Homo sapiens: one gene and its partners. The protein of the gene in region 1 purifies or fractionates together with the protein of each later gene. This does not show direct contact. Each region holds a gene or a part of one and is shown in the gene's direction. Other genes may lie near its edges.

Evidence for each region. The genes of interacting proteins can lie anywhere in the genome.
Region 2: the proteins of ABHD12 (region 1) and MON2 purify together in Homo sapiens (affinity purification with mass spectrometry; one large-scale study listed by BioGRID and IntAct). This does not show direct contact.
Region 3: the proteins of ABHD12 (region 1) and MRAP2 purify together in Homo sapiens (co-immunoprecipitation; one large-scale study listed by IntAct). This does not show direct contact.
Region 4: the proteins of ABHD12 (region 1) and TRDN purify together in Homo sapiens (co-immunoprecipitation; one large-scale study listed by IntAct). This does not show direct contact.

Annotation. Positions count from the first base shown.
Region 1 is NC_000020.11:25,386,824-25,392,705, reverse strand, and holds the start of ABHD12 (lysophosphatidylserine lipase ABHD12), read left to right. Parts: upstream 1-1,870; 5' UTR 1,871-2,002; coding exon 2,003-2,193; intron 2,194-5,882.
Region 2 is NC_000012.12:62,535,056-62,540,337, forward strand, and holds part of MON2 (protein MON2 homolog), read left to right. Parts: intron 1-469; coding exon 470-654; intron 655-2,095; coding exon 2,096-2,208; intron 2,209-2,546; coding exon 2,547-2,651; intron 2,652-3,040; coding exon 3,041-3,121; intron 3,122-3,196; coding exon 3,197-3,270; intron 3,271-3,359; coding exon 3,360-3,450; intron 3,451-5,282. UniProt on the Homo sapiens protein: Plays a role in regulating membrane trafficking of cargo proteins. Together with ATP9A and DOP1B, regulates SNX3 retromer-mediated endosomal sorting of WLS away from lysosomal degradation.
Region 3 is NC_000006.12:84,087,307-84,091,893, forward strand, and holds the end of MRAP2 (melanocortin-2 receptor accessory protein 2), read left to right. Parts: intron 1-1,784; coding exon 1,785-2,175; 3' UTR 2,176-3,575; downstream 3,576-4,587. UniProt on the Homo sapiens protein: Modulator of melanocortin receptor 4 (MC4R), a receptor involved in energy homeostasis. Plays a central role in the control of energy homeostasis and body weight regulation by increasing ligand-sensitivity of MC4R and MC4R-mediated generation of cAMP.
Region 4 is NC_000006.12:123,215,327-123,219,664, reverse strand, and holds the end of TRDN (triadin), read left to right. Parts: intron 1-924; coding exon 925-1,064; 3' UTR 1,065-3,326; downstream 3,327-4,338. UniProt on the Homo sapiens protein: Contributes to the regulation of lumenal Ca2+ release via the sarcoplasmic reticulum calcium release channels RYR1 and RYR2, a key step in triggering skeletal and heart muscle contraction.

The DNA of each region.
Region 1 (5,882 bases):
CAAGTAGCTGGGAATACAGGCACGCGCCACCATGCCCAGCTAATTTTTTTTTTTTTTTTTGAGACAGAAGTTTGCTTTTGTCCCCAAGACTGGGGTGCAATGGTGTGATCTCAGCTCACTGCAACCTCCGCCTCCCAAGTTCAAGCGATTCTCCTGCCTCAGCCTCCCAATTAGCTGGGATTATAGGGTTGTGCCACCATACCTGGCTAATTTTTGTGTTTTTAGTAGAGACGGGGTTTCACTACATTGGCCAGGATAGCCTCAATCTCCTGACCTCGTGATCCGCCCGCCTCGGCCTCCCAAAGTGCTGGGCTCACAGGCGTGAGACACCTCGCCCAGCCTTTTTTTTTTTTTTTTTTTTAAACAGAGTCTTGCTCTGTCACCCAGGCTTGTGCCACCACACCCGGCTAATTTTTGTATTTTTAGTAGAGACGGAGTTTCACCATGCTGGCCAGGCTGATCTGGCCTCCATCTCCTGTGCTTAAATGATCCACCCACCTCCGCCTCCCAAAGTGCTGAGATTACAGGCATGAGCCACTGAGCTCGGCCCATAATGTTTTTAAAAAGTATATCTGGAGATATTGACACAATTATGAATGCAGGCTGTAACACTTAGTAATATGGTCAATAAATTATTTTGCAATTTCAAAGTATCATTACAAAACTAATTTAAAAAGCAGCCGGGCGCGGTGGCTCATGCCTGTAATCCCAGCACTTTGGGAGGCCGAGGCGGGCGGATCACGGGATCGAGAGATCGAGACCATCCTGGCTACACAGTGAAACCCTGTCTCTACTAAAAATACAAAAAAATTAGCCGGGCATGGTAGCCGGCGCCTGTAGTCCCAGCTACTTGGGAGGCTGAGGCAGGAGACTGGCGTGAACCTGGGAGGCGGAGTTTGCAGTGAGCCGAGATCGCGCCACTGCACTCCAGCCTGGGCGAGAGCGAGACTCCGTCTCAAAAAAAAAAAAAAAAAAAAAGAAAAAACTAATATAAAAAGCTGTTGAATTTCTAAACGCATTTCCAATTGACCTTTATCAATTGCCAATAGTTTTCAAAGTGACAAATGCTGAAATTTCTAACGTTACTTTGGAATAAGCAAATATCTCTCTTTGTTATAGATCATCTGTAAAACTAATGCCATATTGAAGAAAGCCAAAGTTATAAAACTAAATTTGTGAAACAGCCCTTTATTCTTTCCTTTTCTCTTTCTAGGATGGGTTGAATTAGTACTAAATTTGGGTTTCATAAGGGCGAATTTATCTTTGAAATGGATTTTCCTCCCATCAGGTAGTCTTAATTGCTTTATAAAAATCTAAAATCTAACACAGGTTTTTAAAAAGTAAATTTTTCAAGCAGTTCATTTCCTGATGTTCGGCCCAAAAGTAAACACTGAGTATATACATTTACTTCAAATTAAAAACTGACGACCGGAAAGCATACTTTTAAAGGTAATGTCCTTGTGGAAAAAGAATTAAGAATCACGAGAACGGAACTGCTATTTGCTACCTCTGGTTTTCCGTTCACAGAAGCACGAGGAGCCCAGCGCTGCGGCTCTGCCTCGCTGGGCCACCCCTTTCGGGCACGACCGGGAGCGGGTGCTCCTCACACCGAGCGCCCGGGCGAGCACAGCTGCAGCCTGCGGATGGAGCCCAGAGCCCTGCCCTGCAGATGACGCGCCGCTGCAGCTTCGCCCACCCTCCCACAAAATGGCTGCGGGTGGCGCCAGGGATGCTGGGCGCGCGCTCCTTGGAACTAGAGAGGAGGTGGCCGGGGCGGGGCCGGGGGAGGGGGGTAGGGCAGAGCCGGCGGGAGCCCGGCGCTGATTGGCCGGCCTGGCTGGCGGGCCCCCGCCGCTGGTTCGTAGCCGGCGCAGCGGCCTGGGCTGGGATGTGAGGAGCGGCGGGTTCCGGGCTCCGGGCTCTGGGTGGCGGCGGCTGTGAGCGGCGGCACTGCGGCGCAGGCCAGCGGGCGCCGTCGGCGGCTGGCCCTGTCGGCCGCGGGATGAGGAAGCGGACCGAGCCCGTCGCCTTGGAGCATGAGCGCTGCGCCGCCGCGGGCTCGTCCTCCTCCGGCTCGGCCGCCGCGGCGCTGGACGCCGACTGCCGCCTGAAGCAGAACCTACGCCTGACGGGCCCGGCGGCGGCTGAGCCGCGCTGCGCAGCCGACGCGGGAATGAAGCGGGCGCTGGGCAGGTGAGGCTTCGCGCGGAGCGGGGGGGGGGGGGGGGCCGGTCCCTCACTTTGCGCAGGTGCGTCCCGCAGGGGGCCGCGGTACCTCCCAGCCCCTCCCAGAGTGGCCGTCCGCCCGATCCGCGGCCGCCCCCGTCCGCGCCTGTGTCCCGCATTTGGCCCGCGGCAGCCCCACCCCCGCTCCCTTCCCCAGGCACCGCGGCGGGAGCGCCCTGCCCTGCCGCTGACCCCCTGTGTCCTGCTCCGGCCCTCTCGCCAGGCACTCCTGGCCTAGCCTTGCACCCCGACCCTTTCCCGGGGAAGCCGGGGGGACCCTTACGCTGGGGGCTTGGCGCCGCCCGAAGTCATGACCCCGCGTGGGAGAGCAGGGTAGGGGGTGGGGAGTCCTTGGAAGATCCCTGGACGCCAGGCACAGCAGAGGCGGGAGGCAGAGGGGCCGGCGCCAGACCCTGAGAGCGCTGGGGCCCACTCGGACCTCCTCCTCCTGCTCTGCATCAGGCCCCACACCGAGCGCCCGGGCGGGCGCCCCTCGGGCTGGGCTGCGTGCGCGGAGCCTTACTGGCGCCTTGGGCCCTCGGCGGCTCTCCCCGGTAACTAGGGTCGGGGGCGTGCGTCGCTCAGAACTCGGGGACCTTTGGGGAAGGGCTCAGTGGGCGGCGGGGTGCTAGGGGAAGGAGGGACTCGGAGCATCGCAGCCGTCGGAGGGAAACCTGCCCTTCGCTCTGCTGGTGATGGTTCGTGGTACTTGAAATCTGTCCGCACAAGTTCGCCTCCTTGGGAATCATCTCGCAGTCCTGAGTCGTTTGGTTATTGGCGTTCAATAACCTTTGGGTTATTGGGTAGAAGATGAATGCGTTTATATAAAGCCACTTTCAAAACTGAGATGGGAACGTGTTTCATAGGGACAGATTTCTCCTCCCATCTGCTGGTTTCCTAATTATCTGGCTGTTGTAGAACGTAGCATTCCTGACAGCTTTGAAGCCTTGCTACTTCGTGGTGGTTTGAAGAAGTTACTATATGATGATCTCAGGCGTTGTAGCAGAGGCACTTCTTTTTTGACCATCTGGAATGCCCTTAGTTGACGCTGGCCACTTGAGTGTAAAATATGCGTATCGCTCCTAAGGAAAAGTAGAATTTCAACTTCATTGCTTAAAAAAATCATGAAATTAAACTATAGACACTTCTAAGTCGATGGTTTGACAGAAGGGCGGAGACTGATAGTTTTGTGTCTTTATGTGTAAAATTATGTAGCATCTGATCAATATCTTTTGTGAAACTAATCTGTTCTCTTTGCTATGGAAAGATTTATCTGCATTAAAAACTCATGATTTAACTTTAATACAATTTTATTAACAGACATGGCATAACGCTTAGATAAATTGGAAAATTCTTCCTTCGAAAAAATCAAATTGCCGGGCGCGGTGGCTCACGCCTGTAATGCCAGCACTCTGGGAGACCGAGGCGGGCAGATTATCAGAGGTCAGGAGTTCGAGACCAGCTTGACCAACATGGAGAAACCCCGTCTGTACTAAAAATACAAAATTAGCCGGGCGTGGTGGCGCATATGCCTGTAATCCCAGCTACTCGGGAGGCTGAGGCGGGAGAATCGCTTGAATCTGGGAGGCGGAGGTTGCGGTGAGCCAAGATCTCGCCGAACCGAGATCGCACCAGTGCACTCCAGCCTGGACAACAAGAACGGAACTCCGTCTCAAAAAAAAAAAAAAAAAAGAAAAAATCAAATTGTTTTACACAACGTTTGGGGAAACAGCGGCGACCTGGCACCTTCTTGAAGAATGTACTGTATTAAAATTACCCGATTAATTTTTATTTTCGTGTCAGGACAAAGAGAGACATTCCAGTGGTGTCCATATCCTTTGGATAAGCAAAAGGCTGTTAGGGGTAAAAAGCAAAACAAAGGGAAAGAAGACCAAATTTGTTAGGTTGTCTTCCTTCCCAGCTGGCTGTCTCAGACATCCTTGAGCTTTCTTCTCTTCCTCGCTCAGGCTCTGCGCCACCATCACCTCCTCCTCACTGAGGCCTTCTTAGACCAGCCCACTCCTGTCGACCTTGTTATCACTCGAGATTGTAATTTTTGCTCGTGTGCCTCCCCCGCAACCAGAATGGAAGCGCCATGAGAACAGGAGCTTTGTTTTCTCCACTTAAGTATCTCCAGTACCTGGCACGTAGTAGGTAGCAGAAAATACTTGTTGAATGAACAAATATCCATAGAACAGATATCCATTGCGCCACAGAGCCGGCTCGTTTGTGTCTTTTATGATCCTTCTTTGGATCCTTCCGCACATTTTTTAAACTCTTTATTGTCGACATACGTGGAAGTAGAGAAGACAATCTAATGAGCCTTCTTCATGTGTCCATCACTTAAAAGTTTTCAGTGTTTAGCCAATTTTGAATCATCCATCCCTCTTCTCTTTTTTTTTGTAGGATGAAGGATTGGATTTTTTTTTTTTTTTTTTTTTGAGAAGGAGTCTCGCTTTGTCGCCCAGGCTGGAGTGCAGTGGCAATCTCGGCTCACTGCAACCTCCACCTCCCAGGTTCAAGCAATTCTCCTGCCCCAGCCTCCTGAGTAGCTGGGATTACAGGCGCCCGTCACCGTGCCTGGCTAACTTTTGTAGTTTTAGTAGAGACGGGGTTTCACCATGTTGGCCAGGCTGGTCTCGAACTCGTGACCTCGTGATCCACCCACCTCGGCCTCCCAAATTGCTGGGATTACAGGCGTGAGCCACAGCGCCCGGCCTGGAATATTTTTAAACAATTTTTTTTTTAAGAAAGTTCCGTCACCCAGGCTGGAGCACAGTGGCATGATCATGGCCCACTGCAGCCCAGACCTCCTGGGCTCAGGCGATCCTCCCATATCGATGCTGGGTGTATGCCACCACTCCTGGTTAATTTTTTTTTTTTTTTTTTAATAGAGATGAAGTCTCACTATGTTGCCCCCAGGCTGGTCTTGAATTTCTGGCTTCAAGCGATCCTTCTTCCTGGCCTCCCAAAGTGTTAGGTATGAAATACCGTGCCAGGCCTAAATTCTCCTGCCTCAGCCTCCCGAGAAGGTGGGATTACAGGCATGTGCCACCACACATGGCTAATTTTTGTATTTTTTGTAGAGATGGGGTTTCACCATGTTGGCCAGACTGGTCTCCAACTCGTGACTTCAAGTGATCTCCCTGTCACGGCCTCCCAAAGTGTTGGGATTACAGGTGTGAGCCACCATGTCTGACCTCTTTTTCTTTTCTGATTGCATTGTATTTCTAGAACAAAGTTAAATAATAGGGATGACACTGAGTAACTTGTTTCATTCCTGACTTTAATGAGAATGCTGTTAGTGTTTTTGCCATTTAAGTGCCATGCTGGGGTGTGTTGCTAATGTTGTGGGGAGCTTTTTGTTTTTGTTCCTGCTCCCTCACTGATGTTTTTAAAATAAAAAATGGTGATTGAGTTTTCTCAAATGCCAGTGTACATCTGTGGAATGATCATAGAGATTTTCTTCTTTTATCTGTTAACATAATGAGTTATAGTAATGGATTTATATTATTGAATCATCATTGTATTCCTGGGATAAACTCTCTTATTGTATAGCCAGATTCTATTTATTCATTTATTTTTTATTTTTATTTTTTGAGGCGGGGTTTCACTCTGTTGCCCAGGCTGGAGTGCAGTGGCACGATCTCGGGTCA
Region 2 (5,282 bases), on another chromosome or scaffold:
TTTTCCCTCATCCCCCTTCCTCATTCTGTCCTTGCCCTGCCCCAAGCCACCAGAATTGTCATGATGTTTTAATGGAAAATACAGTCCTAAAATTACAGAATGCCTTTTTCATTTCAAGACTTACAACTACTTTTGCAATTATGATTATATTTAATTTCTTTGTTCTTTTTCTTTAGGATTTAAAAATTTACTGGTTTCAAAATGCTTGATATTTTAAGCTAAATCTTTATGTTCTTGGTCATTTTCTTCAGTAATAAATACATGTATTATTATTCATTGCTTTTACCCAGTTCAAATTTTTGAGGTTATGTTAATAGATTAAAATTCCTTCTTAAGTATATTGGTAATATTTTGACAATATTTTTGTATAGATTTTCTTAAAATGTCACTGAATACTTAATTCCACATCATGCTTTACAATGTAATTAAAAATAAGTTAATCAGATTAAATAAAATACTTTCTTTTCAGCACAGATGAAGCTGCCACTGAGAATATTTTAAAAGCTGAACTGACTATGGCTGCTCTTTGTGGAAGACTGGGCCTTGTAACTTCAAGAGATGCCTTTATAACTGCAATATGCAAAGGTTCCCTGCCTCCCCATTATGCTCTTACTGTATTGAATACCACCACTGCAGCTACACTTTCCAACAAATGTAAGACAGGCTTACTCAAAATTCTCTCTATGTAGTGGGATGATATGGTGTAGACAGAAGATTATAAACATCTGAGTTTAAGTCTCTGCTTTTTCACATACTGACTGTGTGACCTTGGGGAAATTAATGTCCCTGAGAGCTCTTTAAAAATATGGGGTGGGGGGTGGGGGGTGGGCATGGGATATCCAAAAATCCAGAATCTAAAATGCTGCAAAATCTAAAACTTGTTGAGCACCAACATGACAAAGGAAAGGCTCATTGGATAAGTATATAATGTGAATAGGTATATAATGCAAACATAAGTATTTACAAATATATTATGCAAATAAATGCATAAGTATATATAATATAAATATTCAAAAATCTGAAATCGGAAACAGTTGTGATCCTAAGCATTTCGGATAAGGGATACTCAACTTGTAATACCAATTTTAAACAATAATTGTGAGAGGAAAATAAGATAAATCTGGAAGTCCTTTGTAAACTATGAGATACCATTGAAATGGTGATTGTTATTTTTTTTTAATGGAACTAGTAGAACAGTAATGTTTGTAACCACTTAGGTTAAACTTACATTCAAAAATTTATTTTCTTGTTGAATTCTTTAAGAATACTTGTTTGTTACATGTAATATAAATTTCAGTGTAATATTTAGGGTTTTTTTGTTTATACTTTTTTAATGAGACAGGATCTCGCTATATTGCCCAGGCTGATCTTGAACTGGGCTAAAGCAGTCCGGCCTCAGCCTCCCAAGTAGTTGTTATTACATGCTAATACTCAGTTTTCAAACTGAAAATGTATTGCTCTCTAAATTAAAAAACATACCAGGGATACATGTTTAAAATACTTAGAATGTGTTCGAGTTCTGTATTGCTTATGAAGAAATCTACCAAAGTTATATAATTTTATGTTGTATAGAAAATTACTTAATATTTGCTTAACTTGTCTTGGTTTTTGTACCTCATGAAGTTTTTGTGTTTTTTTGTTTTTTTTTTTTTGAGACAGAGTCACTCTGTCGCTCAGCCTAGAGTGCAGTGACCCAGATCTTGGCTCACTGCAACCACCGCCTCCTGAATTCAAGCAATTCTCCTGCCTCAGCCTCCTGAGTAGCTGAGACTACAGAAGTGCATCGACATACCTGGCTAATTTTTGTATTTTTAGAAGAGTCAGGACTTCACCATGTTGGCCAGGCTGGCCTTGAACTCCTGACCTCAAATGATCTGCCTGCCTCAGCCTCCCAAAATGGCTGGGATTACAGGTGTGAGCCACTGTGCCCAGCCCCTCATGAGTTTTTTAAATGTTTTGATACAGATATTAGGTATTACTGATATTTAAATAAGTGTATGGCTAAACTTGGTTTAATCAAACTTTAAATATAACATTACTTTAAATGCAATATAAAAATATATTTTAATTATTTAGGCTTTCCTTTGTGTTCTAGCATATTCCGTTCAGGGCCAAAGTGTTATGATGATAAGTCCATCAAGTGAATCTCACCAACAAGTTGTGGCAGTGGGTCAACCTTTAGCAGTCCAGCCTCAAGGGACAGTAATGGTAATGTACTTGTATTTTTCTTGGTTATCAATTAGCTATCAAGGAAACTTGTTGTACCTATCTTTGTGTTTGCCAAAATGTGTCATACATTTATTTACTTTCTTTTACTAGAACTACTTTCTTAAACTAGAAGAAACTAGTTTATGCAGTTGACATTACTGTAACCAATATGATAATACAACTTTTAATCAAATGAATTGTTCCTTATAAAACCTTCCAAATCTTTTTCTTAATTTTTTCTTTAAAAAAATCTTTTAACACATTAATGCTACTTTATAAGCTTTTAATTTTTAAGAATACATAACAATTATTGAAAATGTATCCTTTTTAAAATATAGCTGACTTCCAAAAATATCCAGTGTATGAGGACTTTACTTAACTTGGCGCATTGCCATGGGGCTGTTCTTGGAACATCATGGCAACTTGTCTTGGCAACTCTTCAGGTATGTAAAAGTGTCTAGGTCAGAGATTAGTGTTGTTTTTATATATAATTGCTAACAGTTAGACTAAGCAATGTATTTTGATGTTTTGGACAGGCCTAAAAAATAGATAGTAAGTATGAAAAAAGAGAAGTTAGAAAGGGAAAAAGATGTGACTCATATTGTAGGAAGTGGTGGAATGCTTCTCATAATGGCCTAAGCTCTGCTGCATATGTTCGATATCATTAATTATTTTATATGAATGTTAATTAGTGATTTTAGTTTTAGGTTTTAAAAACCTACTACTGATTTTAATTTTGGTTGCTAGAAGTTACTACTGATTTTAATTTTAGTTATTGGACCTTTTATACTTTTGTAAAGTTATTTGTTTTGATTTTTTTTTAATTTTACAGCATCTTGTGTGGATTCTGGGATTAAAGCCTAGTAGTGGCGGTGCCTTGAAACCTGGGAGAGCTGTAGAAGGACCCAGTACAGTAAGCTCTAGTCTTTCTTACCCAATTAGTGCATCCCAAAGTGTCATATATTACATTTAATTTTATTCTTCTCAGGTTCTAACAACAGCAGTGATGACAGATTTACCAGTGATTTCCAATATACTTTCAAGATTGTTTGAAAGCTCACAGTAAGAGTCAGTTTTTTTAATTGATAAAAACATTGTTATTTGTTATATATTTTAGATCAAGATGTCTTATTTCTTCATTTCCTTTTTAGGTATCTTGATGATGTATCACTGCATCATTTAATAAATGCACTTTGCTCCTTGTCTCTAGAAGCAATGGATATGGCCTATGGAAATAATAAGGTGTGATATTCTACCTTTCTGTTTTAGATATGATACATTAGTTATATAAGATGTACATCCATTATGATCTTAGTGTTTTACTAGTAGAACTAACACTCAGATTGTATGGTAACCATACTCTGTTGGGTTTTTACCACTTATCGTTATTTGTCGAAGGAGTAAAAAGGACATGATTTGGCTTGTGATATGTCTAAATATGTCATATGATTTTAAGTTGTGTTCATTTCTCTTATATACTGAACATTTTAAAAATATTTTTATAAAATAATATAATACAGTTTTATAGGTTATATAAAATGTCATGATAATACTTGTAATTACAATTTATGATTGGGGTAATATAAGATTTAAATTAAAGAATGTTTGTCTCAGTTTCCTTTGCTTTCATTGGGATGGAAAGTAAGGAGCTAATCATTTCTTTCTAAAGGTAATGATTCTCCTTATCTTGAAAATTTAAATTTTTATTTGTTCATTGATTAAATGAATAAAACGGTACTTTTGAATATTAACATTCAAGAACATTTCTTTCTATACTACTAAAAATATCACTTTCTGTTATACTTGGAAAGCACAGGAACAGTTGTATTTATTTATATGTTAGAAATAATTAAACAAAATACTTTCCACATTTTAAAATCAATAAATATAGTTTGACTATTTACAAATAAGTGAAAATAACCCAAAATATGATTTAAAAGCTAAAATTTATATAATTTAAAGCTATAACATGTAACTGTAGCATTCAAAATTATGTTGTCTGCCTAGTCTTTTTTTTTTTTTGAAACGGAGTCTCGCCTTGTCGCCCAGGCTAGAGTGCAGTGGCGCAATCTCGGGTCACTGCTCTGCCTCCCAGGTTCATGCCATTCTCCTGCCTCAGCCTCCCAAGTAGCTGGGACTACAGGTGCCCGCCACCACGCCCGGCTAATTTTTTTATTGTATTTTCAGTAGAGACAAGGTTTCACTGTGTTAGCCAGGATGGTGTCGATCTCCTGACCTTGTGATCCGCCCGCCTCAGCCTCCCAAAGTGCTGGGATTACAGGCATGAGCCACCGCGCCCGGCCATCTGCCTAGTCCTTAAGTGTAATTTTGGGTACTGTGGCTTGTTATCTTGGCTCTTATGACTCATTTAAAGATTGGTGAAGAAAGTCTCATTAGAGCATAGTTTCATATATTATAGTACCTAGCTAGATAATTATATAAACATGCAGGTGTTTGAAAGTATGTATTATGGCTGGGCATGGTGGCTTACGCCTGTAATCCCAGCACTGCAGGAGGCCGAGGCAGGCAGATCACTTGTGGTCAGGAGTTCGAGACCAGCCTGGCCAACATGGTGAAACCCCGTCTCTACTAAAAATACAAAAATTAGCTGGACATGCTCAGTTGAACCCAGGAGGCGGAGGTTGCTGTGAGTCGAGATTGTGCCACTGCGCTCCAGCCTGGGCGACAGAGCAAGACTCTGTCTCAAGAAAAAAAGAAAATATATATTATAGTTTGTTCTAAATCAGGGCAAGGATAATATATAATGAAGTAATTAATTTTTTGATACCTTTAATAATTCTACATATTTGAGATTCTTAACACAAAACTATAATATTTTTAATAAAGTACCTTAATGAAATCTAAGCAAGTTTATATGGTAATGTTTTCAGAATCTATGTATTTATTCAATAAGCACAGTAGGCTTACTGTGTACATGACGATCTGCTCAGAGACATTAAGAAATAAGAGGTTTCTACTTTCAAAGAGTATATAAGCTACTTGGTTCATAGTTAGTGACAATTACTATGGTATGAGAGTCTCAATAAATAATACAGATATTAAATGACATGAGA
Region 3 (4,587 bases), on another chromosome or scaffold:
CATTCTTTTGAGTTTCTGATTGACCTCTCCAAAGGAGGCAATCAGATATGCATTTATCTCAGTGAGCAGAGGGGTGACTTTGAATAGAATAGGAGGCAGGTTTGCCCTAAGCAGCTCCCAGCTTGACTTTTCCCTTTAGCTTAGTGATTTGGGGGTTCAAGATATTTTCCTTTCACAGCTTTAAGCCACTCTTTTTCCTAGGTGACATTTTAGTTTATCAGGTCACAGGTTGCTGGCACACTCATCCCTGTTCTCAAATATCTTTTAAACCTGAGAGAAATGACAGTTGAGGGAAACTCATTTACAGAAAGACAAAGAAGACCATGTAAATTTGCACTAAAGCATAAATCTTCAGTCTCTCTAAAATGATTTTCTCTGAATTCTGAATACCTGACATAGTAGAATATTGGATTCTTGCATAAACCCTTGACGTTCACAACATGTTTGTTTAGTGGGCAGTGAAAATTGTTAACCTGGCTTATTATTAAAAGGAAAAATACAGGTTTCTGAAAGGATTTCTTGCTTGATGTCACCCAGGTAACCATGCTAGGAGACAGATCTGATATTAAAATTCCTTCAGCTAGCTGGATTACAAACCTTCTAGGGTTGCTGACCTCTGAAATCCAGGTGATTTTGATAATTTGGAGTTTAGTGATATACAATCAGGTTTTCCAGACCTGTGTTTTTTTTGTTTTTGTTTTTTTGTTTTTCACCTCTGCCCAAATTCTTACAGAATTTGGTCATAAGTGCTTTCTCCTGAGTGATAGGATGGGAAGGAAGAGATTTAAGAACTGGAAACACTGAGAGGATTACACATCTGTTGAGCACAAACTCCAGGGCTTGATTTTTGTCAGGTTCTGTTCTGGACTTGAAAACACATTCAGTCATGATTTGTGCCTTTAAGGAGTCACTACCTGTGCATGGGCAATCCTTCTTTAAGTCTGGAAAGGATGGTGATTAAAGTAGATGGAGTATCAGGTTCTCAGCTTACCTGGGCTCTTTCTTTCACGCACTTGTGGGACTCATTGAGAGTTATTTTATTCACTCATTGACTCATTTATTACCCTTGAACTGCTTATTTGTTCCACGTTAAAGGAAACAAGGAATTAGGAATCTGGGTTTTATTCCCACTCATACCACAAACTGATTGTGTGACTAAGTGGGCAATTTGACTGCTCCTTACCTGAGTTCATACGTTTGTAAAATGCACATCATAATTCTTGCCCTAACTGACTGTATTGGTTACTTTTGAGAATCAAGTGAGAAAAATGGATATTATAGCATTTTGGCAAATATTTAATGTACCCCTATGAGACAGTATTATTGTTTTTAGGCCGGTGGTTCTAAACTTCAGTATGAGTAATGATCCTTAGAGAATATATGAAAATGCTTATTACTGAGCCTACATTCACAGATTCTGAGGGTCTGTGACCCAGGAATCTGCATTTTAAGAGGCACTTCAAGTAATTATGATGCAAATGGTCCAAGAATTCCACTGAAAAATACTGGTGTGTCTGCAGAATATTGGGGAATTCCTCAGCAAGGTGTCTGTTTTCGGGATGATCTGGGGGCCCTCATCTTGAAGCCTTTGCCTTGGGTTTATCTGTACATACTCAGAAGGGATTTCTCTTATTTCTCATGTTTGTCTGCATGCCATGCAAGGGGCTTACACTCAATAGGTGCTTAGTGGAAATGTGCTGGCCTGCCCTACGTGCAGAAAACCATGATTCTGCAGGTGAATGGGCTGGAGTGTAAGCAGTCTTTTATTTTCTTTTTTTAAATAGCAATGCAGAGTCCTCAGAGAAGAGATTCAGAATGAACAGCTTTGTGTCAGACTTTGGAAGACCTCTGGAGCCAGATAAAGTATTTTCTCGCCAAGGCAACGAGGAGTCCAGGTCTCTCTTTCACTGCTACATCAATGAGGTGGAACGCTTGGACAGAGCCAAAGCTTGTCACCAGACCACAGCCCTTGACAGTGACGTCCAACTCCAGGAAGCCATCAGAAGCAGTGGGCAGCCAGAGGAGGAGCTGAACAGGCTCATGAAGTTTGACATCCCCAACTTTGTGAACACAGACCAGAACTACTTTGGGGAGGATGATCTTCTGATTTCTGAACCACCTATTGTTCTGGAAACTAAGCCACTTTCCCAGACCTCACACAAAGACCTGGATTGAGAAACATGCTCTGTAAAGGGTCTTCCTGAAGATGTGGATTCTATCTTTATGTAGCAAGAAATCTACATCCACCAAAATTGTGTGTGTTTGGGGGAGAGAGAGACATAGAGATAGAGACAGAGAGGCAGAGAAGAGACCCCTTTAGAAGAGAGCTGAGCTGATTAAGCTGAGTGGTTTTTTGTTTTGTTTTGTTTTTGCTTTTTAATACATTTGGAGCTTTGGGAGTATTAAAGTATTTACACCAAGCTTGTCCAACCCGTGGCATGTGTCCCAGGACAGCTTTGAATGTGGCCCAATACAAATTTTAAACTTTATTAAAACATGAGTTTTGTTTTTTTTTTTGCTATTTTTTTTAAAGCTCGTCAGCTATCGTTAGTGTTAGTGTACTTTATGTGTGGCCCAAGACAACTCTTCTTCCAGTGTGGCACAGGGAAGCTAAAAGATTGGACACCTCTGATTTATACTAGCTCGTTTTGCTTGTTGAAAAATTTGGCCAAATACCTATTGTCAGCATTCTTGGGTGAGGATTAGCCTACCATGTTCTAATCTGGCCCTGCCACTACTATGCTCTACCTTTGGTGAGTTGCTTTACCTCTCTGGGCTGCCCCATTTTTAACTGTAGGTTGACAGGTCTAGAGTGATCCATCCCACCTCTAATATTTTGTGAATTTATGACTTTGCCTTCAGATGAGGCTGAGCTATACATAAAACAGTATAAACTAGGGTACTGCCTCGTATCTCTTGTAGGCTCTCTCAAATCTCTGTACCTTCCACTTAACCCTAATTGAGCCAAGCTTTAGTCAGGGGATCTGGTTGTCTACCAGAATGTCAGGAGACTCATCTTACACAGTCATGGTGGCCAATGTTTCTGGTGGGTTGTGCTGAAACAGCTCTTCTGAGAACTTCCAACCACCCATGCTCTAACCTGGAGACAGCCATCCCCTGCCTCAGAATAAGTACCAATTCGTAGTACATGTATGGTACTCTTGTCCCCAAGAAATGTTAGGAAGCTTGTCAGCTGAATGAGAGGAGGTGCCTTCTGGGTATCTCTGTGTTGGTGTATCTGTGCCATTGGCTACAGAACAAGAAAAATACTATTTGCCATGCTATTACCTTGGCAGATGTGTAGGTGATAGTCATCTGGCTTTGAGCTGAGATGGTCAGTGGGTTGTAAATTCCCCACTAGCAGATATTCAGGGTGGCCTGAGTTATGTAAACAAGTGAGCAACACAGCTTTAATTTCATGGAGGAATCAAAGCTGCACACTGGTATTAAAACAACTTGATTTTGCGCACACAGTTGCATGCATGGCAAGCTGTTAACCTCTGGGTGGCATTTTCATTATGAATTTGTTCACCACCTGTCTTGCTTAAGCTACAAAATAAATGCATTTGACTGCACAGAAATTTCCTCTGGTTCTTTATTTTCACACATCCAATTTTTTGTTTCCCAAAAAGTTGTACCATGTTTATAATGTCTCCTAACTTCTTGGAGTAGGCAGTGCTGACTGTACCATCTCTGGGATTCTGGTGATCTGAGCCATGCATGAGATTTAGGGATTATTTCGCTAAAAGAAATCCCTTTTCTATTGTGTATTTTAAAGAAAATATCATTCTTTAAGACTCTAAATAGTAAAACAAAGCATGGAATTTTTTTGTAATTAAAGCTACTTTAACATATTTTTTATAAATAGATGCTATTTTCATGAATTTTTTATGCAAGAGAGCAAGAGTATTAAAGAATGCTGAGTTTGTTAACTTTTTTTTTTTTTTTTTTTTTTTGAGAGACGGAGTCTTGCTCTGTCGCCCAGGCTGGATGGCTCACTGCAGCCTCCCCTCCTGGGTTCAAGTGATTCTCCTGCCTCAGCTTCCCAAGTTGCTGGGACTACAGGCACGTGCCACCACGCCTAGCTAATTTTTGTATTTTTTAGTAGAGACGAGATTTCACTATATGTTGGCCAGGCTGGTCTCGAACTCCTGACCTCAAGTTATCTGCCTGCCTTGGCCTCCCAAAGTGCTGGGATTGCAGGTATGAGCCACCATGCCTGGCCAGAGTTTAACTTCTAATATGAGTATGATTATTCATAATTTATTTAATGAAATATAAATCATGGGCTATTATTAAAGTTCACAGCTACTTAAGTGGTATCTTATTTAGAAGTAGATTTATTGATCAGAAGATTGAAAGATACTTAAACGTCAGACAAATACCCATGACTATATCATCATTTTTATGAACTAAATGTTAAGAACTGTGAATGGTCCAAGATTTTGCCCCTTCTGCAAATCAGCTTGCCATAGTCTCATGGATGCTGCCAGAAGACACAAGAGTCTTGGGTCAGAGACAAAAATCTTCATTACAGCACAGCAGGCCACATATGCTTCATGCTCATGTTGGTTCCTGAGTTTGTTT
Region 4 (4,338 bases), on another chromosome or scaffold:
AAACCCAGTGACCCATGGAAATGGAATCAGAATACTCCCTGGTTGCTTCTCCAGCTTCCTTTTTTCCTATCCTTTGCTTTATTCTACTTCATAAACCCCTAGTCTCATATGGATTTGGCCATCTTCTTTATCTCCCACACACCACTAGCTTTAACTATGATTTTTCTTTCCTGGCCTTCTGCAAAAATCTATGGCTGGTTGACAGAATGCAAATGGATAGGATAGAAAACACTGGAAGTTTGTAGGCACCCAAGATTGTGAGGAGATGCTAAACTCGCCATCTTTTACCAAAGCTGCTACCTGGGAGCACCGGCTTACTGAGTCCAGAGTCCTTACTTGCACCACACTCCCTTAACTTTCCTGTTTTGCTTTCTACTCAGAGCTGCTACCTGGCTGCTACCTTTGTTGCTCAAAGAGCAACCAAGCCACCTTAGGAAAGCTCTTGCCTCTAAAGTAAGGGCAAATAAAACTTCTAGATGTTGGCACCACCTCTCTGTGACATTATAAAACACACACACACAGTCTGTTGCTTTGCATATTGATAAGCTCATATTTTGAAACCTGTGACTATGTCTCTATGATTGCTATGCACATCAACAGATGTCTATATGATCAGAACTTTGACTTTCTCTGCCAGGCCATTTTTATTATCACTTATTAAAGGCTTATTACATACCAGGAAGAATTTTAAGAGCACATGTAACTCATGTAACTCATTTAACTGTCATAATATTTCTGTGCGGTTTTCGTTGTTTTGATGTTATACATAAAGACTCCAAGACACAGTGAAGTTTAGTAACTTGCCAACAGCTACGGAGGCTGCTGGCAGAATCTGTGACCTTATCTGCTGCACTGCACTGCCTCACTGTGCTTTTTTGCTCATGTTCTGCATGTTTTAACAAACTGTCATGCTCTGTTCCTTAGGTCCCATCAGTTTCTTCCAGTGTGTCTACTTGGATGGGTACAATGGCTATGGATTTCAGTTTCCTTTCACTCCTGCAGACCGCCCTGGAGAGAGCTCTGGTCAAGCAAATTCTCCAGGACAGAAGCAACAAGGACAGTAAACACACATGTATGACCCTTACAAGTGCTTTAAGATTTTAAAAATGTGATGTTTTGTCCACAGTAGTTCAGGCAATTAAGAATATGCAACCCAGAGAATTTCTGTGAAAACATTTTGCTCTTTGGCCTGGTGTGGACGGAAAGGGTGGCCAAATGGATTGAGTGATGAGCAGACATGTTTAAGGGTCTAAGTCTCAAGAATCTGTTATGTGTGTTTGCTGCGGTGGGAGGGGGTGCTTGTATTTATCTTATTTCCAGTCACTATAAGGTTGTACACAAACTAATTTAAAGTTTACTTAATAATGGTATCTTTAAAATAATTGACACAATTGCAAAATGAATTCCTGGCTTCAGTTAGCTATTATTTTTTTAATGACAACATAGACTGTGCTCTAAGTTTAAAAGATGGGGAAGCTTATATAAAAGTGACCCTTTTGCATCATATGGGTATCTAAACTTAATTTACCCAATAAGTTGATGCTTAATGATTTTATTTTATTTTTGTCTATTTCTATTTTAGTTGTGGCTTTGCTCTAAGAATGGGTAATAGTTGTACTACAGACTGCTATAAATTTCTTGTGATACTCTTTTAGAGCTCAAAATATCTCTGAGCTTTAGACATGGTAAGGTGGAGAGTAAATGCTTGATAAATCTTTAAGATATGTCTTGAATGATAATTAGGACATTCAGTCCAGTGGAAATACACCATTCAATTAGTCAGGTCTGGTGAATCGTTTGTTTAAAATATTAGCAAATGAGATGTGGAATTCTGAAATTTCTCCAGACTGTGTCTTAATAAAAATGTCACCTGGGTGAAATTTTAGATCAATCACTAAATTTGGGTGACAAATATAAAAATATTTTCATTTCACTTTAATACATTCTTTCTGTGAAGTAAAATGTTTTTCTTTCTCATAATGGCAAAATATGAATGCCATCAAAGTTTAAGGAATTCATTTTAGCCTTAAATGCCTTCGTGAGATGTCTTACTTGTATTTTAGGTAACTGGTCATCAGTGCCAATGACATGGATAACAATTTTTAATCTACTCGACAGTGCATCCCTGGGAATGACTGTTATGTTTTTGTCATATTCCTGGTAATATAAATACTCGTGTTCTTTACTACATTGTTTTTATCAACTCTAAAAGTCATGCCTCTGTGACCTTTATCATGTTTACAATTGCAACTGAACTTATGACAAATTAACTCAGGAAATAAATTGAGTTATCCTTTCTAGCATTGTAATTACCATCAGCAAGGCCTGAGATAGCCAGAGCCAATACTAGCCAAGTGATTTATTTTCAAGGATTGCCACTAACTACGGTTCTTTAGGACCAAGATATAAAACAGTCACTAAAAATCATTAGGCTAGGTATCAGTAATACATTCATTACTAATAATGCATTTTTGGAGACTTTTGTGAAAGAAGTTGGTCTCTGCCAAAAGCTGGTGGACCACATTCACACCACGAAAGCCAGTGTCACATGAACCAGATTAATGACTCTCTTTATGGGGTATGTGGGACATCCTGGAAGTGTATAATTTCAGGAATGACCAGACAATACCATCTTGCAAAGCCCCTTCAGGTGACAATCTAAACTTGTGGGTAGGAGAGTGCATAAAGTTTATTGCTCAACTGCTCCTCCAGCCTGCTGAATTTACTGAGTAAAGAAATAGCAAATATGATAGATGTTTTAGATTTCATAGAACAGAATGGTTTGTCCATTAATTCTTTCATTCAATGACTGTTTATTGAATACCTACTCTTTTAGGGCGCTGTGTTAGGTGCTGTATTGTACAAGAAAAATATAATAAATTAGATTCCCAGCGCTATTCTGACATAGTGAATGACCTTGAAAAATTTACTAAACATACTATGTTTGTTTCTCCATGAGTAAAATAGGGATATAGGGACAAACAGTCTAATATCTCATAGAAATACCATGGAGACAAATAAAATATTTTAATATAAATATGATATTAAAGTAAATTTCTGAAGTAATACTTTTGGGTATGGCACTAGTTTTTCCTCTGACTATTTTACTGTTTCTTTCACTCTCAATATAAAAACTATTTGATAAGATAAAACGATATATTTTATTGTAATTAGAATTTAGACAAATCAGCTATAATGTAAAAATGTTAATAATAATTACGTTTTATCTGATTAAAGTTACAATGATCATAGCACTTTAAAAATATTATCTGAACTGTCATTTGTTTATATATTACCGTCTAATAAAATAGTTATAGATCTTCCAAGTTTGATGCCTTACATTTTAAAAGGAAAAGATAAATGGTTGATTAAGAATCTTTGTCTTTAATGGTTCATTCATAATTCAAGTTATACTGGCCAGGAATATGTAAGCATTTCATAATTGTTTTAGTTATTTTGCACAATTGGTACACACTACTCCCATTACATCCCTGCGTTTACCCACCCTTCATCCCCTCTTAATAGATAAAGATCTGAAAATAAGAATCGATTTTTCCTTAGGTTTTTGATTTATATTTAGTTTTCCTAAAGCCTGATAAATCATTATTCAAATGGGGCAAGTGTTTTTTTGTTTCTTTTTTTTTTTTAATGAACCCTAGCAAAAGCACCTGTATGTTGACTCATTCTGGCATATCTTTTCAAAACCTTTTAACTTCTTGCAGAAATATTTTAGAAACTGGTATTGTGATACTGTGTATTTTAGAGATTTAACTTGTACCCTTGAGTAATTTTTCTGGAGAAAAAAGCAAAGGAGATAACAAATATTGCTGATAGAAAACTCAGTGACCATATAAGCCAAGTGGCACATACAGAAAATGAAACTAATCCTTAGAGAAACTTGAAAATTTGCCCAAAGTAACTGACTACTTCAAAACCAGGCCTAGAACCTTGATCAGCTAACTCCCAAATGTTCTTCAGTTTTCAGGGTGTTATTACAAATATTGACTTATTTTTCCAGTATCCTCAAATCCATCTTGCAAATTATACTTGGTGATAGACATGTAACCCTCTATGAAAAGACTTGTCTTTTTTCCTACTTGAAAGCTGAAAAGTGCCTTAAGAGTGTGTTGCATTCAATTGCTTTACAGTAAAGAAAATAAATGTCAGAGAGGTTAGGTGGCAGGCCTAGAGGCACATTGTTAGTAAGCAGCAGAACAAATGCGATTGAAAGCTCGAATCTTTTTCTAATCCTATTCATATCCTTCCTGCCCTTTGTAACTCCATATGATATCGTCACCATCATAAAAGCTTCCCTTTGTTACTTGCAAACTAATTAAG